Regions from separate parts of the Homo sapiens genome. Here region 1 is linked to region 2. The links come from fine-mapping of genetic effects on gene expression. A gene starts in region 2. The other region holds a variant in brackets. All regions are shown on one strand. Distances are from middle to middle.

Region 1 (12,840 bases), 110 kb before region 2:
ACAAAACACACAATTAAAACACACTTTGCAAACTGAATTCACTGTATAATAATCTGACAATAAACTAGAACCATGCAATTAGTTAATTAAGAAAGTTTGACTTAAAATATAAACAAAATCAATTAAAACACAGACTAACCAGGCAATTTAGCAGGTGGTCTCAGAACATTAAGCTACTCTGCCTTTATTTTTCAAGAAATAAAAATAAAAAATATAACTTTAAATGCAATCTATCTGTTTAATTACTTTCACAAATAAAATCTAAAAGAATTTTGTACCTAAGAACAAAATCATAGCAGACTAAATTATAAGGGCCTGGTAAGGAAGATTCTTTTAAAGTTCATGTGAAATTGAAGAAAAGAATGATTTAAAATCCTATGCTGTTAAAGCACTAAGGCAAATCCCACACTGCATATCACTTAAAAATCAATGTGTGAGACTGGTAATAGCCTAATGACAAACACTTTTCTTCGAACTTCTAAATGACAGTAAAAATATATATTTAATTATATTGTATTAGGTAGCCTATCATAAACTTTAAACTGCCTGATGCAAGAAATGCAAAAAGCATTATTTTAGGAGATGCAAGAATAGAACGATAAATCTTTTGAAAAAATGAATTCAGATGATGAGGGAAGCTTGAAGTATAATTAGGAAGCTACAACACTCAGTAAAGTCAAGGAATGAATTCTCGCAAAGAAAAAAAAAGTCAACACCTAAATACCTACATGTTTAGAGAATGTGGTACAAAAGGGTGAAAAGCACTGCTCAGCTAGCAAAGATTTCTTAAGAGACAGACATTTTTGAACAGATTTTTGAAATGATGGGAATCAGAACAAAGAAAAGCTGAGGCACCCAAGTATGGATGATAGTAACAATCAATGCCATTTAGAAGAATCAAAATGGTTTCTGCTATAATGCATCTTTTTAGGAAGCTTGCTAATTATTTTAAGCAATTTCATAATTCGCCCAAACCAATACTCTACAGAACTACAATCTCTAAACTGTGAAATCCAAAAAGCTCTGAAAAAATCAAAAGCTTTTTTATAACTCATTTGGTAGTAAATCTAAACAGAACTGACATGAAGCTTTATAGAATCTTTATTTTTTGATCGGAACATTCAGAAATTTCAAAGGAGACTGTGCAATAATATGCCACATATGCACAGTACTTTCCTAAAATTAAAAAGAATTCTGAACCCTCACATACATCTACCCCTGAAGATTTCAGGTAAGGCACTGAGGGTTTGTCTTATGGGCAGTCTACACAGTACAGTATAAATCACAGGTCACTTAGAAAAGAGACCTTGCCTGTGTAGGTTCTGAGCAAGAAAGAATCAAGAAGAAATGAAAGAGGCAAGAAAATATGAACACATACCAGTACAGTGCTGCCCAAGACAGAAATACAAAGTAAATTTGTCACTGAATGAATGAATGTATGAATCAAAGAATAAGGAACTATATTTTAACATAGGCCCACATAGTCCTACAAATAAACAGGAAATGTTTAAGAATAAATATTCTATTTTCTTAATATTTAAATAACCCAAATCTCAATTGTATATATATGCTCTTATTTTATGAGCTTTTCTTTATCTCTTTAAATTTTTAATTTTGCAGCATCTAATTATGTTTTGGTTTTAGAATATGTAGAAAATTTTTCAGTTTCATTGTGTTTGGTATGATTTTCCTAACTGATAAGTCTTGAGAACATGTTTTAAAGACATTTCTAACAACCATTACTGATTTATTCAGTATAGACCTGCTCCTAGAGTATTCAGAACACAACTCCAGTCCCTGAGCCGAAGTGGGCAAGGAAGAGTAGCTGACAGAAAATCTGGTAGCTGCTTTTTGATCTAGTTAATGAATCTAATTTGCAGATGCTGCTCCTTCCTACCCAACAACCATTATCTCTTTCTCCTTTATTGATAGAAAGCCAATTTTATTTAGGATGGCAACAGTCATAGCTTAAAAAACAAAATCAAAATGAACAACAAAAAAAACCTGCTTCCCCATGCTAGATGCAGACATGTGGCACAGTTCTGGACAATGACATGTAATTAGAATTCCAGTATGTGGAAATTCTGACAAAGTTACTGAGTCCCCAGTTTATCCCAACTGCCATGACCTTCCTCCTTTGCTCATCCCTCTTTCTGGACGAAACACAGATGTACTGTATGTAGAAGCAGGAACCATCCTGAGTTCACAAGAACAAGAGCCACAGGCTAACAGTGGTAGAGCTAACAGGTAAAAGCAGCCTGGACTTTTGACGGCACCATGGAACCCATCATGAGCCCTAACTACCTGCCTTGAAACTTGTCCATAAGAATAATAAAAGGCTTTCTTCAGAAGCCATTGTAATAAGGTTTCTGTTGTATGCAGTTCAGTGCAATACAAAATGAAACACTATACATACAAGAAGTCATATTGGGTAACAAAGGAAAGCCAACAAGTACAAAAAACTTCACCTTTAAAGAAGAAAACAATGAATGCGAGATGATTCTAAATCAAAACTTTTCCCATAAGGGTTCATCACTATGGATAAATTATTTAATTGCCTAATGATTACATGACTTTTTCTCATAATTTTCACTCTCTCCACCTCCAATTTTTAGTTATTAGTTTAGCAAACACCTCCTATGTACCAAGCACTTCTTCCATATTTCACTCAACCATTCACAACTTCAATTCAAACAAGTCATCTTCATTTACTCCATAAAACTTGAAAACACAAATTTCATAAAAACTTAAGTTAAAATCCCAGAATTTACCAGCCCTATGTTCTCTATTACAAAAAGAAATGCTAATTTAGGCATCTTTTAAAAATCTTTCTATATAACTTACACATGTAGAATATTTGACCAATTCATTACTGATAAACATTTAAGTCTTTTAAAATATTTGTTCACATGATAAACAAAGCTGAAATGCACGTCCTTTTCCAGAGTTCTCTCCACCTCCATATCTGATTATTTCTGCAGGACAGATTCCCTCTAGTGCAATTCCTAGCTCAAATGCTACTGGCAGTAGGTCATTTTCCTTAAAGATTTGCTAGGCACCATTTTGGAATAATGAACAAGACCAACCCATACCGGCAAGAGGTTTATAGCAAGTCTCTTCAGAGGACTATTACGCAGGCATTTAGTGGGTAAACACAGTCCCATGGAGTCATATGAGAACACTACCTAGCTTCAAGGATCTCAACCAAGTTTCCAGAGGATGTAAGATGTAACATCTAAGCTGAGTTCTAAAAGACAATCAGAAATTTATCAGGCAAATGGTGTATGTGTGCATGTGCATGTCTGTGTGTGTGCACATTCGGGTGCATCTAGAGGTGAAGTCTGAGGTTGTTTTTTTTTTTTTTTTTTGAGACAACAGTCTCACTCTGTTGCCCTGGCTGGAGTGCAGTGGCGCAATCTTGACTCACTGTAACCTCCACCTCCCCGGTTCAAGCAATTCTCCTGCCTCAGTCTCCCAAGTAGCAGGGATTACAGGTGCATGCTACCACTCCCGGCTAATTTTTGTATTTTCTGTAGAGGTAGGGTTTCACCATGTTGGCCAGGCTGGTCTCAAACTCCTGACCTCAGGGGATCCACCCACCTCGGCCTCCCAAAGTGCTGGGATTATAGGGTAAGTCACCATGCCCGGCCAAGATTGGAGATTTTTTGTTGTGATTTGGTTCTTTCGCTTTTTTTTTTTTTTGAGACGGAGTTTTGCTCTTGTTGCCTAGGCTGGAGTGCCATGGTGCAACCTCGGCTCACCACAACCTCCACCTCATGGGTTCAAGTGATTCTCCTGCTTTAGCCTCCCAAGTAGCTGGGATTCCAGGCATGCGCCACCATGCGCAGCTAATTTTGTATTTTTAGTAGAGATGGGGTTTCTCCATATTGGTCAGGCTGGTCTCAAACTCCTGACCTCAGGTGATCTGCCCGCCTTGGCCTCCCAAAGTGCTGGGATTACAGGCATGAGCCACTGCGCCTGGCCTGCTTTTTTGTTTTTTTTAACCCCCCAGGTAGTAAAGATGTAGAGGTAATATAACAAAAAATGGAGTGTCCAAGAATTGATAGTTCTCTGAATTTTTGTGTTCTGAATAGAGTCATTGTGGGGCTGGAGCACATAGTGCAGACTGAGCTGATGCAAGAGATGATGCGAGAGACAAAAATACAGGCACACAAGCCACGTTAAAGAGTCTAGAGTTTATCCTTAGGGTAATGGAAAAAAGAAGGGTTTTGAGCTAAGTTACATCATTGCTAATATTAGTTAAGTGCCTGCTAAGCGCTAGGTCCCATACTATGAAGTTCATACACATAACCGTATTAAACTCCGCCAACAAATGTGTGAGGCAGGGACATCTGTCACAGGGTTATTACCATCACCCAGTGGAGGGACAGTAGCAGTCTGAAGCAGGGTAGTAGCATTGAAGATGAAGAGGACAAATTTGAGACACATTTAAAAAACAGAATGAGGCTGGGTGCGATGGCTCACACCTGTAATCCCAGCACTTTTGGAGGCTGAGGTGGGCGGATCATGAGGTCAGGAGATAGAGACCATCCTGACTAACACGGTGAAACCCAGTCTCTACTAAAAATACAACAACAACAAAAAAAATTGGCCCAGTGTGGTGGCGGGTGCCTGTAGTCCCAGCTACTCAGGAGGCTGAGGCAGGAGAATGGTGTGAACCTGGGAGGCGGAGCTTGCAGTAAGCCGAGATTGTGCCACTGCACTCCAGCCTGGGCGACAGAGCGATACTCCATCTCAAAAACAAAACAAAACAAAACAAAACAAACAAACAAAACACAGAATGAAAAGGTCTAGCATGTGTTTGGATACGAGTTGAAAGTAAAAAAGACAAGATGATCAGGGTAGCCCCATAATTTATTGTCCAAACTAATTTTGAGAGTGAAAGAGGCTAATAGTGAAAAAACTGTCATATCTGGTCACTCTAAAATTGAAAGAGCTTGGGACCACAGAACAGGTTCAAGCAGGGAAGAGGAGTTCCGTTTTAAACACGGTGAAATGGAGCTGCTAATGGGCCATCCCAAGAGAGCTATCCACTTGGCCAGTGGGTCTAGAACTTAGGAGACTTTTCTCAGCAGAGACAGATGTTTGAGGAGTTAACAGTACACTGATAGTAAGTGAAGGCAATGGAATACGAAATATCACTCTCACCAGAAGTTGGTATTTTTTAAATCTTCTTGAAGAAAAACTATTATTTAGGATCTCCTATATGCTCCTGCCTCTCCACCTATTTCAGGCATTAATATAACCTGAAGCTGCAGATCCATGGTGCTGTTAAATTCTATCAAAACTAAATGGACACTTCTACCTTTAGTTTGACAATAAAATTGACAATAATGATTTAGATTTCACTACGTCTAATTGTTTCCAATGCCTTTTTAATTCTTCATTTTTAATTGCTAATTTTAATTCATCTATCAGTCAGCTGAACTGACCTCATCAAGAAATTTTTAAAATTTCTTTTTAAAAATATGGGAAGTGTGCCTGTGGTATAAGTGTTTTCATATCTGAAAATGTCTCTCTACTACCTTCACATATGAAAGATAACTTTGAGTATAAAATGATTTCAAAACTTCATAGTCTTCCTGTCTAAGTCAGTCTAGCGTTTGTTCTATATTATACAATATAGTCTTTCTGCCTGGGCACTTTTTTAATATGTCCTTTTTCCTTTTAGTTGAACTAAGTTACCATGGTGTACTCGGGGTGGCTCTTTTTTCATTTTTATTACCCAGCACTTATCCCTCTTCATCTATAAAGGGAGGCCTTTTCAGCTCAGAAAACTTTTCATCAATTATATCTTTGATCATTGCCTCTGCTGTATTTTTTCCTAAAGTTTTTTAATTCTTTTGTTGGAATCTTGTCCTCCATACCGATCATCATCTTCCTTCTCATTGTTGGCATTTGTCTTCCTTTTGTCTACATTCTTAAAAAAGTATCTCATGGACTTTTTTTTCACATCCATACCCTCTTTCAGTGTCAGCTTTACTCTTCAGCATCACTAGTGAAGATGGTCTGTTATTGCCCCTCCAACAATCTCTCCTTATCTCACTCCTCTCCTCTTCCAAATATTTTCATTTTCATTTTTTGTCATCTTTTTGTTTCAGTGTTTCACCTTGTTTCATATTTCTCAGAGATTATAACTCAAAACTTTTTGAGAGTTCCAGGTCCTCTTTTTTTAAAAAAATTTTCATCTGGTCTCTGTAATAAATCATTTTAATAAGTAAGCTACACTTCTGAGTCTTCATGCTGCACCCTATTTTTTAATCAGTCTGTAGAGCTTTTTCACAGCTCTCCTATGACAACCTTTCAATCACTTATCCTCAAAGAAGTAGACATTTACCTAGACTCTGTGTTTGCTAAAACTACCCTTGGTCCTTTTTATTTTGATATTAGCTGAAGTCCTTCTCTAACGTAGTTAGTTTATTTGACAAATATTTGTTGAACACCTACTGTGTGCCAGGTATTTGCCAGGGGATGCAAAACCAAACAAGCTCTCTACCCTCATGGAGCTGCTAGTCTACCAAGTGAGACACACAATAAGGAATAAATGACATGGCCAGTTTGTTAATAATGTCATGAAGGATGTAAAGAGGATTCAGTGATGGAGAAAAAGAGTGGGTGAATAATAGGCTCACATGCATGGATCCAGCCTGATCGCAAGTTTCCAAAAGGTTTAATATCCAAGGTGGCTGTGCCTGATTGGTATTCAGTCTTCTATACCAGCTCTGATTCTGAACAAAGGGAAGGCTTCTTTCTTCAACAAAGAATATCACAGTATTCTTGCCCATGCCACCACCAACAGCAATTTCCTTGAGC[G/A]GACTTTCCTAGCTCAATGATCTATCGTTAAGTTTCCTTGTTCCTGCCTACTTTATTTCTGGCAGATTTAGTCTCCAAATTGATTGCAAAATATGGACACAGTGGAAGCCCTTTCATCAATGTGATCAAGGCTGGCAATAGATCTATTAACAGAAAGAGTTAAAGTTGAGCTGAAAATAAAAGTTAAAGTAGAAGATCATTATGATATGTATGTGTTATTCTTAATATTTTACTTTACCATGAAATATATACATGTATCATATTCAAAATATGCAAATCCTTTGACTATGGAACCAGTAATTGGAGTTTTCATATTTTCTGCATAACCAAACATGTGATAATCTTCTGTGGTTCCAAGCTTAGGTTTCTCTAAAGTATAGCAAGAACTTAAACTCAAAAATGTTAAGAAAATCTGAGTGCAGCCGGCTTCTATATTTTTATGATTTCTTCCCAAATCTTTTGCAGTCATCTCGCCAACATTTATCAGTGACTCACCTTTGCTGAATATTTCCAAAGTCCTCAACTTCATAAAAAAGGGTTTTTATGTAATTCAACAGCGTAATAAAATGGTTTATGAGAAAAAAATAACAACAACTTGTTTAGGAATAAATAACTGATTCATGATAATCACACAACTGAAAGACTGGAGGGAGGGAAGTACATTGGCCTGCTAGCTAACAGCCTGTTAGCTACAAGGCCACATTACCATGGGCACTGAAAAGGAATGAAGAGTGTCAGTTGATCTACTTGGTCAATTAAATGAAGATGGTCAACAGAGACCTTAGGCAGGGAGGAAGAAGAGAAAAAAAAGAAAAGCTACCTAACTTCCTAATAGCCTCAAAAGTAGCACTCTTCCAATAGAAAAATATTTGTTCACTTTTCTAGTTGATATAATACCAGAATTTGAAAGCCTTGGGGGTAGACATTATGAAAAGGAAAAGGAATCATTCTCCATACTTGCTTTAAAAGACATGCAGGTTGCTTTTATTTCTAACTGCTTATCATTAATCAGCAAGTAATTGCATTTTTCAGACCAGTTCTATCAGCTTTGTAGTTTGTGGACATCTTAGATTGTGATAATACACTGACTGTCAAGCCAAGGTTTTGGTATTCCTACAACTGTTCATCATCTTCTACATTTTCATATGAGCTTTAATGGGAAACTAAGAGTCAGTCTCATGGTCTCTAGTCAGCCATCACGTAAACTGGAAGTGTCAACTATTTTTTTAATATAATAGATGTTATTTAATTTCAGTCAATGTGAGGTTGAAACAGTATGTCAGGAATTAATACTCATCATTCCTGATGTCATAAAATACATAGAAATGCTAAGGGTGGGAGGGACTGGAACAAAGGTGGAGCCTTTTCTCCTCATTTCCTCCCCAAGAGACCTTTATATTTTCTTGAAAAATTAGGCAAAATGTAATCCTGTGATGACTGAATTGGAATGGCAAACACCAAATAAGATTATTTTGTATTGCTACCAAGCCATGACTGCTCCAACACTAGTACCAACCACTAGTCAATGCAAATAATTTTTAACATAAAATTAACTAACGTAGCATCTTGCAGGTACCTTGAATTCCTTAAGAAACTTTTGGTTATTTACATAATATAACATATTCCATTCAGTCTTTTGGATAAAGCATCCTTTCTGAAAACACTCCAGTAGACTACAGACAAGATGAAAAGTGCTTCTGGATAATCAGGGAACTAGCCAACCTATACCTTGAAAAAAATCAGAGTTAACACATAACAGAGACAGAACATAGGTGAAAACATACAAATACCTTTTACAAGCAATATATATTTAAACAGAAAAGCATCCTAGAGGACAGTTTATAAACTCATCCTTCAAATCCAATAAAATTCATAAATACACTGTACTATTAATGCCTAGATACAACTAAACTAGACTGGAATACAGAATAGCTTAGTTTTTATGTGTTTAAGAGTCTCTAGGACCATCAGTTACTAATTCCCTCACCAAAAGAAAAGTTCAAAACAGCTTTATTTAAAAGGTAAAAATATCTCAGCTTTTCTCAAAATAACAGAAGCTGGAGAGGGTCCAGGATGTCAAATCCTGTATTCTATTATTGCCTTGAATTCTTTAGGATAATTAAAAAATATAGCCGACCAGTTTCAAGAAAGAAAACCTTTAATCTTACTGACTTTTTACACTCATTTTTCTGTTAACTAATGGAAAGACATTTCTATATACTAGTTTTCTAGTACGTGTCAAGGTTTAAGCTTAAACCATCATAATCCATGAGCTATTAAGGACAGTTCCTGGACTAATTATCGCAGCTAACACTTCCATCTCCTCCACAGTTGAGCACAAAGTGCGCTCCCTCTGTACACTAACAGCTCTTTCACCAGACTCACTTCTCAGACTAGAGCCGCCTTGGTTCAAGTCATGGAATCTCACTTCCGCCGTTAAGCTCCAAATGCCTCTATCAAATAATGCTGCCACAATCTGAGTGGTCAGAATTCTATTTTCCTAGAAATTCCATTTCCAAACAATAAAAATAAGGTTGCGAGTTTGGCTTCTTCATTTAAAACTTATGTGTAAACAACTGGTAGAGATATTAGATATTTTCTAAGACACATTCTTACTTGGTATAAAAATATATTGATAACATAAGAAAAGAAAAAAGCTAGCCTTGAATCCCATTAAACTAATAGATAATTAGTGCCAGAAGAATTGTTTACAATAACAATATTAAAAATACAAAATGTAGAATCAGGCTATGTTGATCATAACAATAAGTCTTACATATAAAAACCAATCTGATAAAGCCAATTCATTCAGCTATTTGGAACTATCTTTTATATCCATCCATTCTGAACATTCACCCAATATCCAATCTTAACGAAGTTAACTCTGTAAGAATGCAATGATGCTGAGATGCAATCTGAAATTTTTCAGGTCTCATGGTATAAAACTAAAATCTTAAATGGACAGTTATACAAATTCCAAGCTTTATTGAATTATGGTTTATCTTTATTTGTAACGGTCTTAAAGTTTACTTAGAAGCACTCTGGCACCCAACCTCCAAATATGAGACCAAAGAACCACCTGAGGAGAATATATACCAGGATACCACATTTTCACATAGAATGTGAACCATGTTCTTCTATGCATATCTGGTGTCTGAAGCTTAATATTCTCTTCAGTCAATATTTAAATGTATTTCAATGAATCTGTAATTACTCTTGCTATGTTGCATATAATACCACAGGCATGATGCTAGAAATAAAGAAATAATTCCTACTCTCAAGGAGTTTACAATCTACTGTGATTAACTTTAAATAATTATACTGGAAGAAACAAGCCAGCATTAACTGCCAGCCATATGAGTGACCCATTTTGGCCTGATCTAGGTAGAAATTTGGGGCTAATAGCATAATGGGATGAGACTTTGGACATCTTGGGAGGTGGGTGAGGTTACTCCGTACATGAAAGGTATGTGAACTGAGGTAGCCTATAGGTGAACTGTGATAGCTAGTCTCCGAAGATGACTACCATCATTCCCACTGCTTCCTATACATGCTCCTCACATCAGGAAATGGAGAGTAATTCCCTCCCCTTGAATCTTGGCTAACCTTAATGACTTCCTTGACCAATAGAATGTAATGAAAATGGCCTTCTAGGACTTCCAAAGCTAGGTCTTAAGAAGTCTTGCTGTTTCTACCCAGAAAACTCACTTTTGAGACTTTCAATCTTAAAACACTCCCCCTTGGAACCAGCCACTATGGTTAGAGAAGCCCAAGTCATATGGAGAGGCCATGTGTAAGTACTGGCAGCTAACAGCTCCAACTGAACCCTCAGCCAACAGGGAGCACTAACTTTCAGCAATGTATATGAGCCCTCCTGCACACTGAGCCCAGTCAAATCTTTGGGGAACTCCAGTCCCAATCTCCAATTGCCTGCAATGGTATGAGAGACCCCAAGCAAGAACTGACCAGCAGTTCTACAAAAACGTGGGAAATATAATAAATTGTATTTAAGACATTAAGTTTTAGATTAGTTTGTTAGGCAATAGTCTACTAAAACATTTGACCATCAGGTCAGACTTTCCTCAATAGGTAAGAAGAAGTACCTAGAGAATGCTGAATTTAGAAGTGACTTTCTCAGAGCTCTGTTTTTGGCTAGATTCCTCTGATAACTTCATGTAATAAATAAGGGGCATAGGAAATTGAAGACAAAAGGGTAAGAAGCTGTTGAAGTAATTCAGGCACGAAGTATGGCTTAGAACCAAAAAGTAACAGGAAAAGAGAAGATGCATTTCACAGATGAGAAAAAAAAGACTCTCCAAGTGATGAAATTTAAGGAATAATAAAAGGTAGAGGTCAAAGTAGGTTCTGGGATTTCAGAACCTAGATAACTAAAAAGATAACAATACTTTTAATCAAGACTGGCATCCAAAAGGAAAGCATGTATGGAGAAAATCAGAGGAACTTAAATTATTGGTGCTGGGAGGTCATCCAGGGAGAACCATTAAACAAGCCAATGGCAATGCGTTATGGGAGGGCTTTTCTTTTTATATCTTAGTTGATATTCTGAAGTATCTGTTTTCTACACAAAAACTACGAATCCACACATGATATAGCTCACATAACTGTGTGAACTAAATTAGGCATATCAACATGTACTAATGTCACTTTAAACAGATCTTGGACTACTTTTTAAATACTTACAAAGTTATGTTAGGTTTATTGCTATAACTAATATTGCCAACAGCATGATCAAATTTACGTGTATTATTTATATTCTATGGGTTTAAGTTAGTATTTCTCAATCTTTTTTACATTATCACCTCCCTAAGGACTCTTTTTAGACATTTACTAATCACCCACATACAATTTTAATGCCACACACAAACTGTTTACCTGTTACGTACTATATCTGTGCTTTATATATTAAAAAGAGTAAGATTTTCTTCAAATCCCCAAAAACCAATTTTCACTCTCTTGGAAAAAATATCTCCCCCATCGAGAATGCATGGTTTATTTAGAGAGATAATTTGTTACTCAAACAGGAACTGTGTTTATAACTAAAAAAAAAGCCAACCCTTACAACATTAAAGAAGACTCATGAAGAATATGACAAAGACTCACAGCCACACCTCTAAGGCTTCCAATTTAAAAACTGAAAAGGGCAATTATTTTACTTTCAGTACCTGCTAAATAAAACAATCAAATTCTTCCATTTTAAAGGCCACTATCATTCCTTCATTGTTCATCTATTTTTACTGACAGATCAGTAACTAAAATAATTTGCAGCTAACAAGTAAAATAGAGATTTTAAAACCTAAAATCTAAGAAGCCCTAACCTATAAAATGGATAATAAGCATAAAAACAAATAAGAATCTGCCAATCAGAAGTATTCCTAATTTACCAACCTACAGAAATAGGAAGTCAATATTTGATAAAAAAAGAACTGTAAAGAAGTAATAGGAAGATAAACCCTATACTATTTAAATAAAAACTATTTAAAAAGAAATATCAAAAAGCAATCATTTTACTAATAGCCCCCGAAATTCCATTTATGTTTACCTGTAGTTAAAACTCCTCAATATGAAAGCTTAAAAATATTTTTCTCTTTCATTAATATACTACATTTCCTAACTTTCTTCTTCTGGCATTAGAAAGGCAAAATTATCAATTATTGTTTGCTAAGGCAAAGACAGTGAAGGAAGGAGATAAACTAAAGGGAACATCTTTTCTTCTGACCTATTATGGTTCCAGCCCTGCCTCACTGCACCCAGCATAAGAGCACCCAGAGATGGGGCACAAATCACTTATATCAGCATATATTATTCTTATAACCAGCAAAAACAAAGATCTTCCTCCACCAAAATATAAAAAGAAAGAAAAGTTAATAGATGAGAGAACTATGCCTAAAGCCAAATAGATTTACTAATGCCAGAGTTTACTAGGAACACAATATTTAAGGAACAGGCATATAACCCCAAATGCATCAAAACATAACTTATTTTAAG
Region 2 (12,840 bases):
TATAAAGACAGGTGGCAGACAGATTTCACTCATAGTTAGCTGACTCAGCAGAGTTCAAAACCAGAGGCCTTGGAGACAAAAGAAGGAAGATTATTTGTCAAGAACTTCATTCTTTCCCTAACCTCCCACCTCCACCCCACTTTCGTAAAAAATGCTATTTAGAGGACAAAATGAAATGATCAGGAGGAAAGTCTCTATCCACTCTCCTTATTTTCCAGTTTCTTTCCCTGCTTTTTCTCATCTCAAGAAGATATTTAAAATGTTGTAACCAGAATCATCAAAATTAACAGAAATAAAAACAATACACTGAAAAGTAAACAGTCTGCCTGAGAAAACTGCAGACATTTCAAAACATTTTTGCAGACAATTTTTATACTACCTTATTAATCAATATATCTTATCTTCCTATGCTAAGAGGAATAAATCTGGATAAGTGCCAACCTGTAATTCAGCTGGAAGAAAGTAAAAGATGATCTATTTACAATGACCTGACCCTAATGTTTTTCTCAGAATACACACGTCCAATTGGAAAAGAATTTTTTTACGTTCCATTATAAGAATCTTCCATTTTTTCCTTCAACTTACCTATGAACATAATCTATCCTTGAAATTTTTTGTAACATACTACAATCTAGAATCCTAAATGTGTAAGTGAATTTCAGGCATCCTGAGAAAGAATAGAGTTCACCCATCAAAAAATGCTAATTGGCTTTTTGAGCTTCGGCCTTTTGATCAATCCTTCCTAAAACACAGAAGTGCTAACGACATGTACTGGGTATAAAGAAGAGGCCACAGCCAACACAGTTTCAACAGGGATGATTCCCACTCCCAGAGGATATTGAGAGCAGTGTCTGGAGACATTGTTGGTTCCTACAACTAGGGGTACAGAGAGAGAACAGTGATGTTGGCAGATATCGGGTAGACAGCAAGGATGCTGCTAGACACCCTACAACGCACAGGACAGCCCTTAACACGAAAGAATTCTCTGGCCCAAAATGTCAACAGCAAAGAGGTTACAAAGCCTGGATAGAGGCAGCAAATGGTAGAGTATGTCCAGTTTTAAACTAAAGTACTTTCTCTTCTTTAGAAAACAGTATGTTAGATTTAGAAATTTAACATTAAGATATTTAAGAGATACCAACCAGGCGCAGAGGCTCACGCCTGTAATCCCAACATGTTGGGAGGTCAAGGCGGGCAGATCACGAGATCAGGAGATCGAGACCATCCTGGCCAACATGGTGAAACCCCGTCTCTACTAAAAATACAAAAATTAGCTGGGCATGGTGGCTTGTGCCTGTAATCCCAGCTACTCGGGAGGCTGAGGCAGGAGAATCGCTTGAACCCGGGAGGTGGAGATTGCAGTGAGCTGAGATTGCACCACTGCACTCCAGTCTGCCAACATAGTGAGACTCCGTCTCAAAAAAAAAAAAGATATATACTAGATACCTACTATCCACCTGTCTGCATAAAATATAATTACCTTAAACAGGGCACTCTTTCAGAAAAGCTATGATATGACCTCAAGTGACAGAGTTCATCAAACCAAATGATTTACTTCCTCCCTATTATAGGCACATTTAGCTATACTCACTAAAGCACTAGATGTGAGCTCCATTTCAGTACAATTAATCCTCAAACCTGTCTGAATTTAAAAATGGTTTCAAACTTAAAAATAGCAGCTTGGCTTGATAACTGAAACAGAAACCCATTTTAGTTAAAATGTCCTACTTCCTCTCCTGATTAACCTACTAATAACAACTGAGAAGCAAAAATCACTATTTTAGAGTTCTTCCTCCTTGCCTTAGTTCTGCTCAAACTTTTATAAAAGCTGCTGCTATCAGGAACTTTTACCAAGACAGAAGGGATAAAAAATGCAATAAGGCCTTTACAATCCAGCAAATACAGGTCATCAGAGCTGCTAAATATCCTTTCATTTTCTTAAAGATTACAGAAGTTGGAGAACAAGGGAAAACTAAGACTCCTGAATGCAAAAAAAGCTAAGAATAAACCAGGTGATCAGCAACAGCTAGTGAACCACTCATTCCAGGAAACTCTCAACACTTCAGTCCTTCAAAAAAGACTAAAGTTTTCAGTTATCACAAAAAGCAATAGCTGACTCAAAAACAAATAAAAGTGGTCATTTTAGCCACTATTTTGCCCACAGCCCAGACACCTCTTAATGCAAATTAAAAGCTAAGAGAGAAAATCCCCTTCCAATAATACAATTGTGACATCTCCCTGACAAAAATATTTGTTTAGGCCCTGATAACAGTGTTCATCTGGGAACAACACACCCAATTCAATTTAAAAAAAACAAAAAACAAAACATAAACTACTATCTTCAGACCACAGACAGTCATGAGTATCTGGCCCAGTTGGTTTACAGGAAATAAGTTTGGGTCTTAGTGAAAAATGCTGATCAGGAAGAGACCCACAGGGCTGTTGGACTGAAGAGGAGTTAGAGGACACCATCCTCAAAAGGCTCTAATGTTTGTTCTTGCATTCCTAAATGCTGGATGCACTATCAACGTTCCATCACTTCCCAAAAAGCACAGATCTCCGCATTATATCCCAGAAAATAAGACAATCTCCCTCATACAAACGTGAACAAACCCCAGCACCAAGTGCTATTGTTTATAAATAGACTGCACTCAAGGAAGGGGAAGGAGATCATATTTTCCTTATATGTCATTCTTAAGTAAGATTTACAGATTTATGAAAGCAAGAAAAAAACTGGGGAATCAAAGTCCTAGTTATATGTATTGCCATGAGTCAACTTTCATTAATAACATCTACTATGCTGGACTCTTAAGTACTACTGATGTAAAGTATGTAAGCACATTTCTGTATGTGTATTACAGTAAGTTAAAAAAAAAAAACACAAAAGGCAACTGGGAGCAGTGAATCACACCTATAATCCCAGCACTTTGGAAGGCTGAGGCAGGAGAATAGCTTAAGGCCAAGAATTTGAAACCAGTTGGTCAACATAGTAAGACCCCGTCTCCACAAAATAAAAATTTTAAAACTGGCTGGGCACAGTGGCATACACACCTGTAGTCCCAGCTACTCAGAAGGCTGAGGTGGGAGAATGGCTTGGGCCCAAGAATTCAAGGCCACTGCAGTAAGCTGTGATTCCATCACTGCACTCCAGCCTGGATGACAGAGCAAAACCCTATCCCAAAGAAAAAAAAAAAAAGGTATACAAGTTCTCACCTTCTAATGGCTTTCAATCAAATGCTTATTTAAAGGCATTCTCACTTTCTCACTTGATAAATGTTACATAGGCAAAAAGATAAAGTTTTAACTTCACTTTCACATTTTCCATCGGAGTCTCAATTTCCATATTTTAAGAGTTAATATTAATCTCTACGGTCATATGCTACACTAATTACTTAAAAAGTGATCATTTGTTATACAAAACCTGACTCATTAATTTACTTCTCCAGATCCAAACATCAGACTAATTAATAAGACAACCCTATTATACACACCATAGATAGTAAGCACCTTGTGAAATCTGCTTGTAAGAAGTGATGACTAATTTCAGGGAGACCTTAACAAAGTTTCTCCTTTCCATCTGCTCAAATTCTTCCAAGTTATCATAAAGCATTTTCAAGACATTAGTCTCTGACCAACCTCTCATTCACAGTGGAATTTTTATTAATTTTCTTAGCTGAGATTTATTAACCCTGAAATATACACACAAGTTTCAACAGATTAGGCCCCCTGTTGCCTCTAGTCCTCCAAGGAATTCCTCCCAGAAGCAGAAGCAAGGCTTCGGAGTGCTTCAGGATAGACTTCCAAAGAATATCTTAGAGGCAGGCAGCTGTTCCGGGGTGAGAGAAACTGGAGCACCCTCGGCCAGCCCACTCTTGCCCCAGAGTCCAGCCAAATGGTGGAAAACACCAGAGTTGTGAGAGAAGAGAAAAAGAACAAACCCCCGCTCTCCAAAAAAACAACAAATAGATTGCTCTCAATCTAGGATGGTCTTTAAAAATATCTTGTTTACAAGATAGACCTAAAGCCTAGTGAAGGTTCCGTATCAACTGAAACCAACTAAATGGGCAATTTAGAGGAACCCAATACCTATCTAAATAAACCGTTCTACTAGATACCAAAAAATGACACATAGTGACCGACCTGCTTGGCTCTACTAAAACTCAAGAATTCAATACCCAAACTTGCCAAACAAATGTATTGCAACCTCCTTTTGCTATGTTTGGTATTATTAAGAATAAGTTAGAAGCAGTGAAAAAAAAAAGAATCAACTCAAGTTCTGGATGCTGGACTACACAATGGTTTTCATTATAATGTTTAGCTCTGAAATGAGCTCAAAGACATTCTGGGAAGGGTATAAATCTCTAGCAGTAAATGTTTCAGAAAAAGGACCATATTCATTATGGCTTCAAAATAAAAGTTCCTTTAGTCATAAGCTAAGGTACCAGAGAGCAACATGCTCTATACAGGGGGCAACCAACCCCAGGGCCATGGACCTGTTAGGAACCAGGCCACACAGCAGGAGGTGAGTGGCATAGCAGGTCAGCAAGCATTACCGCCTGAGCTCCACCTCCTGTCAGATCAGCAGCAGCATTAGATTCTCATAGGAGCACGAACCTTATTGTGAACTGCGCATGCCAGGGATCTAGGCTGCATGGTCCTTATGAGAATCTAACGCCTGATGATCTGAGGTGGAACAGCTTCATCCCCAAACCATCCCCCGAAACCCCCGACTCCCCCCATCCCCACCCCTGTCTGTGGAAAAACTGTCTTCCAGGAAACCAGTCCCTGGTACCAAAAAGGTTGAGGATCACTGCTCTATATTTTACATCAGATCTTTCCATAAGCAAATGGCAGCCTAAACAGTAGGCAACAGATTCCTAAGAGGCAAGACAACTCAGTGGCTGGGAGCCTGGGCTACAAAGGCTACCTGTTCAAATCTCAGCTTGCAGCTGTGTGATCTTGGGCAAGCTAATTAATCTCTCCGTGCCTCAGTGCCTCAGTCCCCTCGCCACTTAAGTTTTACCCTGTAAGATACGAAGGCTAATGTCACACACATAACGGTTAAGCTTACAGAGGGGTCTTAGAATGTCTATCTGCTTGAGGATTCAGTGGCCGTCCAAGCACTTAAAGAATACCTTCTTTCTGCAGTGAAAATCCAGTACAGAAAATCTGAGAAAGGCAATCTTAAATGCAAAATGTTCCACCTCCCAGTTGAGTACCAACAGCCTTCCCCTCCAGCAGCCACTTTGACCTTTCATCAAATGCTTTACGCTTAAAGCAGAACTTCAGCCTCTCATTGAGGACTAAGGATAGATATTACAATACTGGAATTAGCTTTGCCTAAGATTTCTCAGTAACTGAATGAGTCACTCATGTCTTTAGATTCTGAACAGAGAAAATGTCAAGGTTGCCAGAAAACCCAGGTCCAGATGTTTGCATAAACCATTTTCAAGTGATCATCAAGCCAAAGCCAAAGGACATTATTTTAGAAAACACTTTAAGTAAAAATATCACTTTTTATGATTTTCCTGTAATGGAGGAAAATCTGAAAATGAGGTTACTGGAGGGAAAAAAATTACAGTAATTTCAACCCCAAAATTACACAACATATCAAGCTAAGCTTAAAACTCCTTACCTTTTTCCAACTGTTTTCTTCAACCTCATCAAGAAGCACTGGACAAGCTCTGAGCTCAAGATTTAAAGATGCCCTCAGTGCTTGTTTCTATTTTCTCTGTCATACTACCTAGGGGAAGCAGAGGCTTTTAAAATTTTGATACATCTCTCTGCAGCAAGATTTTTAAAACCTCTCACCGACAAAACATGTTGAGTGCTCTGTATTGATGACAGCATCCATAAAAGGGTCTTTTTTCACTTTCACAATAATTCCAGTAAAGTTTTTACTTTAATCTCAATTAAATTCAAGCCATTTGCTCTAGCATAACACAAAAAAAATGGCAAGGATATTCTTTGGTCATTTAAGTTATCACAAAAGAGAAAAAAATATATATCAACTTCACGTCTAGGCTTCTCTTTCTCGTAAGTCAAGTAGGAATAGTTAGATTGCCCTGTCAGGGTTTGAGTTCTTCAGGTTCATTCGTTACAGAGCACACTACACACTACACAATACCCAGTTTCACCGCAATTTCTGAAGTGCACGGGTTATATTGGCAAGTAACTTGAAACTGAACTCGCACATGCCGCGCGGTGGATACCCTTCCAAAGGGAACAGACTGTGTCCGCTTTGCTTATTTTTGGTAACTTTAAATAAGACTTTGGATGGGTCGTCTTCCCAACTCATTTACCAATTTAACCACTGGACGCAGGACTGAGCGCCCCACAGCTTTCGGCCGGAGTATAACACGCGCTTCCCCACTCGGTTCCCCCTGTCTGCCACAAACAAACCAGATGTAATAGCTGAAGAATGACGACACTAAAATCAACCTAGAGATTCACATCTAAAAGGGCCGCAACACGAAATAAACTTCTCTCTCTTCAGAGGCAGCGGGGAAGAAAAAGAAAAAAAAGCCTAGGTGGGTTCGGTTTGATCCATTTCCGCGACTCCGTGCGCTCAGGGGCTCTGGGCTGGTGCGGGCGGCTTAACCCTGTGAGAGCCGAGAACGACCCCACCGGGATACGCGGGCCCCGGGCTGGCGGGGGGTGCCTCACGCCGCGCCCGTTCCCCCGCCAGCAGGTGCCCGAAGCCACCCCAACAGGCCGGGTGCGAATGCCGGAACATGGCCACTTTCCTGAGCGGGATGATGCCGCCGCCGCCGCCGCACGCCGCCCAGCACTTTGTTAACTTGGCGCGCCCGGGCGAGGTGGCTCCCAGGAGGTGATCATTGCCGTCCGAGAGCTACAGAGCCCCTGGCCTCGCCCAGCACGGGTGTGGGGCCGCGGCGGGAGGAAGAGGTTGGGTAGCAGCCGCTAACCAGGGGCCCGCACGCCTGGCCCCTCGGAGCCCCGCGCCCCCTTCCCAGGTGCTTACCTGAGGGAAGGAGCCCTCGCGGCGCGGGTTCCTGGGGTAGTCTAAGTGACCCCGGTCCAGCATCAGGTAGAGCGAGAAAATCACCACACAGAAGATCGCACTGCCGAACACGGTGAACTGGCGGCTTAACTTCATTTTCCTCGATAGACTCGGGGCCAGGACACTCTCCTCAGCCAAAGGAGACAGCGCACTGTGGACTCTAGGAAGCAGCCGCCGGAGGCTCCCTTCTCCCGGGCTGCGCGACCTCCGCGCTCTCGGATGCGGGTGCGAGTCCCCGCCTTGCTCCGCACCTAGTCTCCGGCGCCACCACACGCCCTTGGCCTTCGCCCTGGCCTGCCGCCCTCCCCGGGGTCGGGCGCCCCTCTCGAGGCGAGACTCGCCGGCAACTGGGAAGGGGGGCCCCCACAAACTTGATCGCAAGCTCAGCGCCGACCTCCGGCAGGGCGCGCGGGGCAGGCGGAGGAGAGGTCGCTGCCCGCACTTCCTGCCACCGCCGCCCCAACTGAGTCGGCAGGAAAAGTTTTCTCGACGAGGGCAGGCGTGTCCTCCTCACCCAGGGGAGGCGCGGGTTCGGCAGCTCCCGGGCCGGGGCCGCGCAGCTAGGTCAGAGAAGCGGAGGGGAAAGGAACAAGATCGCGAGGAGCCAAGCCCTACAACTTCTGGGCGGGACGGTCGGGCCCGCCCCCGCGGCACCGGCACCGCCCCCGCCTACCCCGACTGAGCCCCTTCGTGCTGCTGCCGCCGCCGCCGCCGACGCTGCGGCTGGGCCGATGTGCACCCCGGACTCCGGGGCTCACGGATTGATGAGTTTCCTCAGAGCTAGCGTCCGCTCGCCAGACTCTCCCGCCCCCCGCCGCCCCTACCTTCCCCCTCCCGGACCCAGGCTCCGCGGGGAGGCGCAGGGGGCGGGCGGCGGCAACGCGGAAAGAAGGAAAAGGAGAGCAGGGAGGAAAGGACCGTCCCCGGAGAGAAGCCCGCTCCAGCTGCAGCCGCTAGCCCCCTCCCTCTTTCCCGCCCCACAAACGCGGAGATGGCGGCGGAAGCGGCGAAAGGAAGCGCCGGTTCTCCAGCGCCACTTGGCGCTCCAGCACCGCCCGCCACGAGCAGGAGGAGACAGCGGCGGCGCAGCAGCCGCTGGGTCAATAGGCGCCCGCAGCGCCTGAGCCGAGCGGGCGGCTGGCCCCGCCCCCTCCCGACGCTCCGAGATGAGGGGGCGGGCCCCACGGCGCCCAATCACAGCGCGTCGCCCGGCGGACCCGCCCCGCGCCTGCCTCCCAGTGTCCCGGCGATAGGAAGACCTCACAGGGCTCTTGTGACCTGGCAGGCAGCTTTCTGGGAGTTGAGGCCTTCGGGGGCGTTCAGGCGCCAGCACCCCCACGTCCAACAGGGGTTGAGCTTACACCCCACTTCCCTTTGTTGCTCAGGTTTCCTATCCTAGGACACTCGGGCCTGGCGTGCCTGGAAGAGTACTTGGTGACGGGCTGGAGGAAATGCAAGAGAAGAGGGCTTGCACATTCTCTTCGGGCTCACTATTTCCTCCTTTGGTGACAGCCTGTTAAAACCTGGGGGAAAGGAGACTGACAAAGGGCCGTCCAGGCACATGTAGAAACATCTGACTACGAAATCCATGAGTGTAATCTGAGAAGTGATGCTTCTGCCAGTTATTGATTTATTGCCTCTCAGCTCCAAATTCGCCCTTTTTGACTGCACTGTAAAAACGGATCTGAGCCTTTTAAACAGTTTTTCGTTTGCCTTCTGGGACTGAAGCTTTATCAGCAGAGGGCGCTGAAGAGACATTACAGAAAAAAAGGATTTTGCTTCCTGATTTCTGTGTATTGATAAGCTTTTGCAGCATACCTGGCTTTCTCCACTGCCAAGGTCCTATAGTGCTCAGTAACTAGCAATTTCCTCTCACATGCCCAACTCTAGGAGCTTTGTAGAGGAGGTGAGACACTACCCCATGAATAACTTCCCTGGCACCCTAGAGGCATTTGCAGCAAGTTGCAGAGGGCACATCTTCCACAAGCTTTGCAGACGTAGCCCAATGGTGACTTCTCTGCCATTCAGTGAGCCAGGTCATGCCCTCTCCAAAAACGTCTAGATCTTAGCCCTGGGAGGAATTGGGGAGGTTCTTCATTGGGCACTCTGTCTCTCAACCCAAGAGTTAGTTATAAGGTTAGCTCCTTATAGCTGCTGTTGCTATATTCTTTAAAGTTCTCTTCTTGCTAGTGAATCCTTCATTACTCTAATCCTCTATTATAGTTAACAATTCTTTTTATTAAGCCTTCCCTGTCCCGGGAGTAGTCCCAAGAAATAGACCTGCAAAGATGGGATTAAAGGTCAGTTTGATTGAGGTTTTGAGCTTTAGCTCCTTGCCAAAGGGAAATGTAATTCATGACATGCTGGGCATCTCAATTAAGCAATTACCTGTGGTTGATCCTGATGAAGTGCCAACTGAAGCCTGTGCCTTGGGGCCCCAAGTGGCTGCTACACTTGACTGCTATGGTTATAAAGATGACTAGAAAGACTGGTGTGGGATGGATTCTTTTGCGTGCTTTTGAGTGGTTATAAAGAGAAATGACAAGCACAGGTTTTTTAACTCTCAGAGTTATGGTATGAGAACCAGAGATATTCTGCAGAATTCCAAAAGCTCTGGTTTATTGTAGCAACAAGAATTATGCTGAGAATCAAACAAAATTTTAATTTTCATGTTACTGAATTATAACTGCTATTAAATTCACACATATTCTGAGTTTTTCGTGTAAAATGGTGTTATTTTTTAATAATAGAATCTCAATACTTGAAATGGGTTGGACCCAGATGAAACCGACAATCTTAAACACGCCAACTCTTTCTCTTATCAGTGGAAGTAGGTTGCCCTCCAGTGTCTAAAGAGACTAGCCTTGCTTGAAAACCTTGACTATAGAGGATGCCACTATCTAGATGGGCTCCCTGATTTCAATGGGGATGACACGATCTCAGAATAGCAGAAACCAGGCAGCACATAACCAACAAAGACAAGGTGGGCGCACATGTACCTTAAAGGGCAGCAGGAAATCAGACTGCCTTGGCTTACGGAGCTGCTCTGAGAACAAAATAGATAGGCAGTTGAAATAGATTATTGCTTGATATTTATAACAGGTAAAAAGATCTAAGTCAGGTAGCCAAAACCTGACTTGAGTCACCACAGTGGATAGTCACAGTCTCTCAGTTCTCAGACCTAAGTCAATTCACAGACCCATAGTCCCTTGGTTGAAAGAGAATCTGTGTTCCCTTTAAGAAGGATCTTGCACCTTGGCTACAGTACACATGGCAAATTCTTTCAAGCTTTCCCCAAAACGACATGTGGCCATTTACTAGTGAAACTGCATTGGCGAAAAGGAAATACACAGATCATTTGAGGTTTACTAAACACTGGCTCTGAGTTGATGCTAATTCCTGGGGACAGAAATCACCACTGTTAGTCCACATACCAACTATGTGGCTACTTTCCCAGTGTAATTGGAATATGTATTAACAGCATAATTTTAATGGCAAAAACAGCAATTACTTTTGCACCAATCTAATAATTGTAACAGACATACTTAGCAACTGACAGGATCCCCACATTGGGATTTAGCCATAGAATGAGGGCTATTATTAGGGAGAGCTAAATGGAAGCTCCAGGAGCTCTTAGAGCTTCCACTTAGCTCACTAAACACAACACTGCATGGCTGGCAGGAATTGCAGGAATCAGTGCTATCATAAAAGTCTTAAAAGGAGTAGGAGTGGTGATACTTACTCTCATTTAATTCACCAGTACAGGATACATCTAGTAGAATAACTGTGGACTCATAAACTTAATCAGGAAGTGATTCCAATTGCTGCTGCTGTCTCAAATGTATTATTTTTACTGAAACAAATCAACATAGCACTTGGCACTTGGTATATAGCTACTGATGTGGCTAATGCTGTTTTCTCTATATCTGTTTGTAAAACCACCAGAAGCAGTTGGCTTTCTCATGTTAGGGCCAACAGGATACCTTCACAGTATTGTCTTGGGGGTATGTCAATTCACCTTAATATAGTCCACAGAGATATTGATTGTCTTGACATACCATCAAATATCACACTGGTCCACTACATTGACAACATTATGCTGATTGGACCTGATGAGCAGGAATTAGTAAGTATTTTAGGTGCTGTAATAATATATATTTGAACCAGAGAGAAGGAGATAATGATCTTGAGTATGAGATGACAACTCTAAAGTGGTCACTTCGGATGTGGGATATGTTCTAGGATGGTAAAGCTATATGAGGACAAAACCACTGAGTCACTGAGAGATGAATCCAAACAGATGGTGTGGGTTAGCAATGGTTAGGATTTGGGGGAAAAGGGGCAAAGTGATTGTTGCAGGGACTGGTCATACCAATCACGTGGCCATGGAAGGAAAGTGGTATAGGCTGAATGTTTCTCTTTAAAATACACGTGTTGAAGTCCCAACCCCCAGTACCTCAGAGTGTAATAGTATTTAGAGATAAGGTCTTTAAAGAGGAGATTAAGTTAAAAAGACGATTAAGTTAAAATGAAGCTGTTAGTAAGGCCCTAATCCAATCTGACTGGTGTCCTTATAAGAAGAGAGAGAGACCAGGGATACATGCACACAGAGAAAAGACCATGTGAGGACAGATTGGGATGGCAGCCATCTGCAAGCCAAGGAGAGAGGCCTCAGGAGAAACCAAACCCGCTGACACTTTGATCTTGGACTTCTAGCCTCCAGACTGAGAAAATAAATTTCTGTTGTCTAAGTTAGCCAGTCCTTAGTATTTTGTTATGCCATCCCTAGCAAACAAATACAGAAGGCAACCACCCAGCTGATAGAAAATACTAGGTAGGTGCAAAAGTATTTGCGGTTTTTGCAGGTAATGGCAACTGTGATTTTTTAAAGGTAATGGCAAAAAAACCGCAATTACTTTTGCACCAACCTAATATTTGCAAACCACATATTTGTTAAGGGACTAATATCCAAAATATATAATGAACCCACATAATTCAATAGTAAATAAATAAATAGCCCAATCTTAAAATGAACAAGTCACCTGGATAAACATTTTTTCAAAGAAGACATACAAATGGCCCACAGCTAATATTAAAAGGTGCTCTAGGTCGGGCACTGTGGCTTCTGCCTGTACTTCCAGCACTTTGAGAGGCTGAGGCGGGCAGATCACTGGTGAAATCCGTTCTCTATTAAAAATACAAAAATTAGCCATGTGTAGTGGGAGGTGCCTATAATCCCACCTACTGTGGAGGCTGAGGCAGGAGAATCGCTTGAAACCAGGAAGCAGAAGTTGCAGTGAGCAGAGGTTGCACCACTGCACTCCAGCTTGGGTGACAGAGCAAGACTCCATATAAAAAAAAAAAAAAAGGTTTTCTAATCATCAGGCAAATGTAAATGAAAGCCACAATGAGATATTACCTCATACCTGTTAGGATGGCTACTAGAAACATGTCAAATAATAATAAGAGTTGACCAAGAAATGGAGAAAAGGAACCCTTGTGCACTATTTATAGGATTATAGACTGGTAGGCCATTGTGGAAAACAGTATGAAGTTCTTAAAAACTTAAAAATAGAACTACCACATTATCCAGCAATCCCACTCCTGTGTATATATCCAAAGCAACTTCTCTTTTTCAGAAAATTAATTTGGATGATCTTGATCACTTATTTACTTTACTGAAATAAGATTTTACTATCACTTATGAAAAAGCTGTATGTTTTCCTATTGTTACTAACATATGAGTCTTTAGGTCTCCAAAAGCTGACAATAGCCATTCCAAGAGATGTGAGGTGTTATCTCATTAGATAGCTGCA

The links. PIP is the estimated chance that this variant, and not a neighbour inherited with it, causes the effect. A credible set is the group of variants that fine-mapping cannot tell apart.
Region 1: its variant is the best candidate, but not a certain one, in a credible set for the expression of MAN2A1 in whole blood (TOPMed, PIP 0.84).

Annotation. Positions count from the first base shown.
Region 1 is chr5:109,790,617-109,803,456 of GRCh38, reverse strand. All of the region lies in intron 12 of MAN2A1 (mannosidase alpha class 2A member 1), which reads right to left. Among named protein-coding and RNA genes, the nearest start is that of LINC01848, 86 kb to the left of the region's middle. The variant G/A (reference allele first, on the strand shown) is at 6,835.
Region 2 is chr5:109,684,698-109,697,537 of GRCh38, reverse strand. It overlaps MAN2A1 (mannosidase alpha class 2A member 1), which reads right to left and starts at 7,611. Exons shown (of 22, transcript NM_002372.4): 1 at 6,986-7,611. The coding sequence starts at 7,120. MAN2A1-DT (MAN2A1 divergent transcript) reads left to right here and starts at 6,439. Exons shown (of 1, transcript NR_186543.1): 1 at 6,439-9,737. RefSeq lists silencers at 6,748-6,847, 7,258-7,467, 7,498-8,017, 8,028-8,317 and enhancers at 8,428-8,527, 8,287-8,955.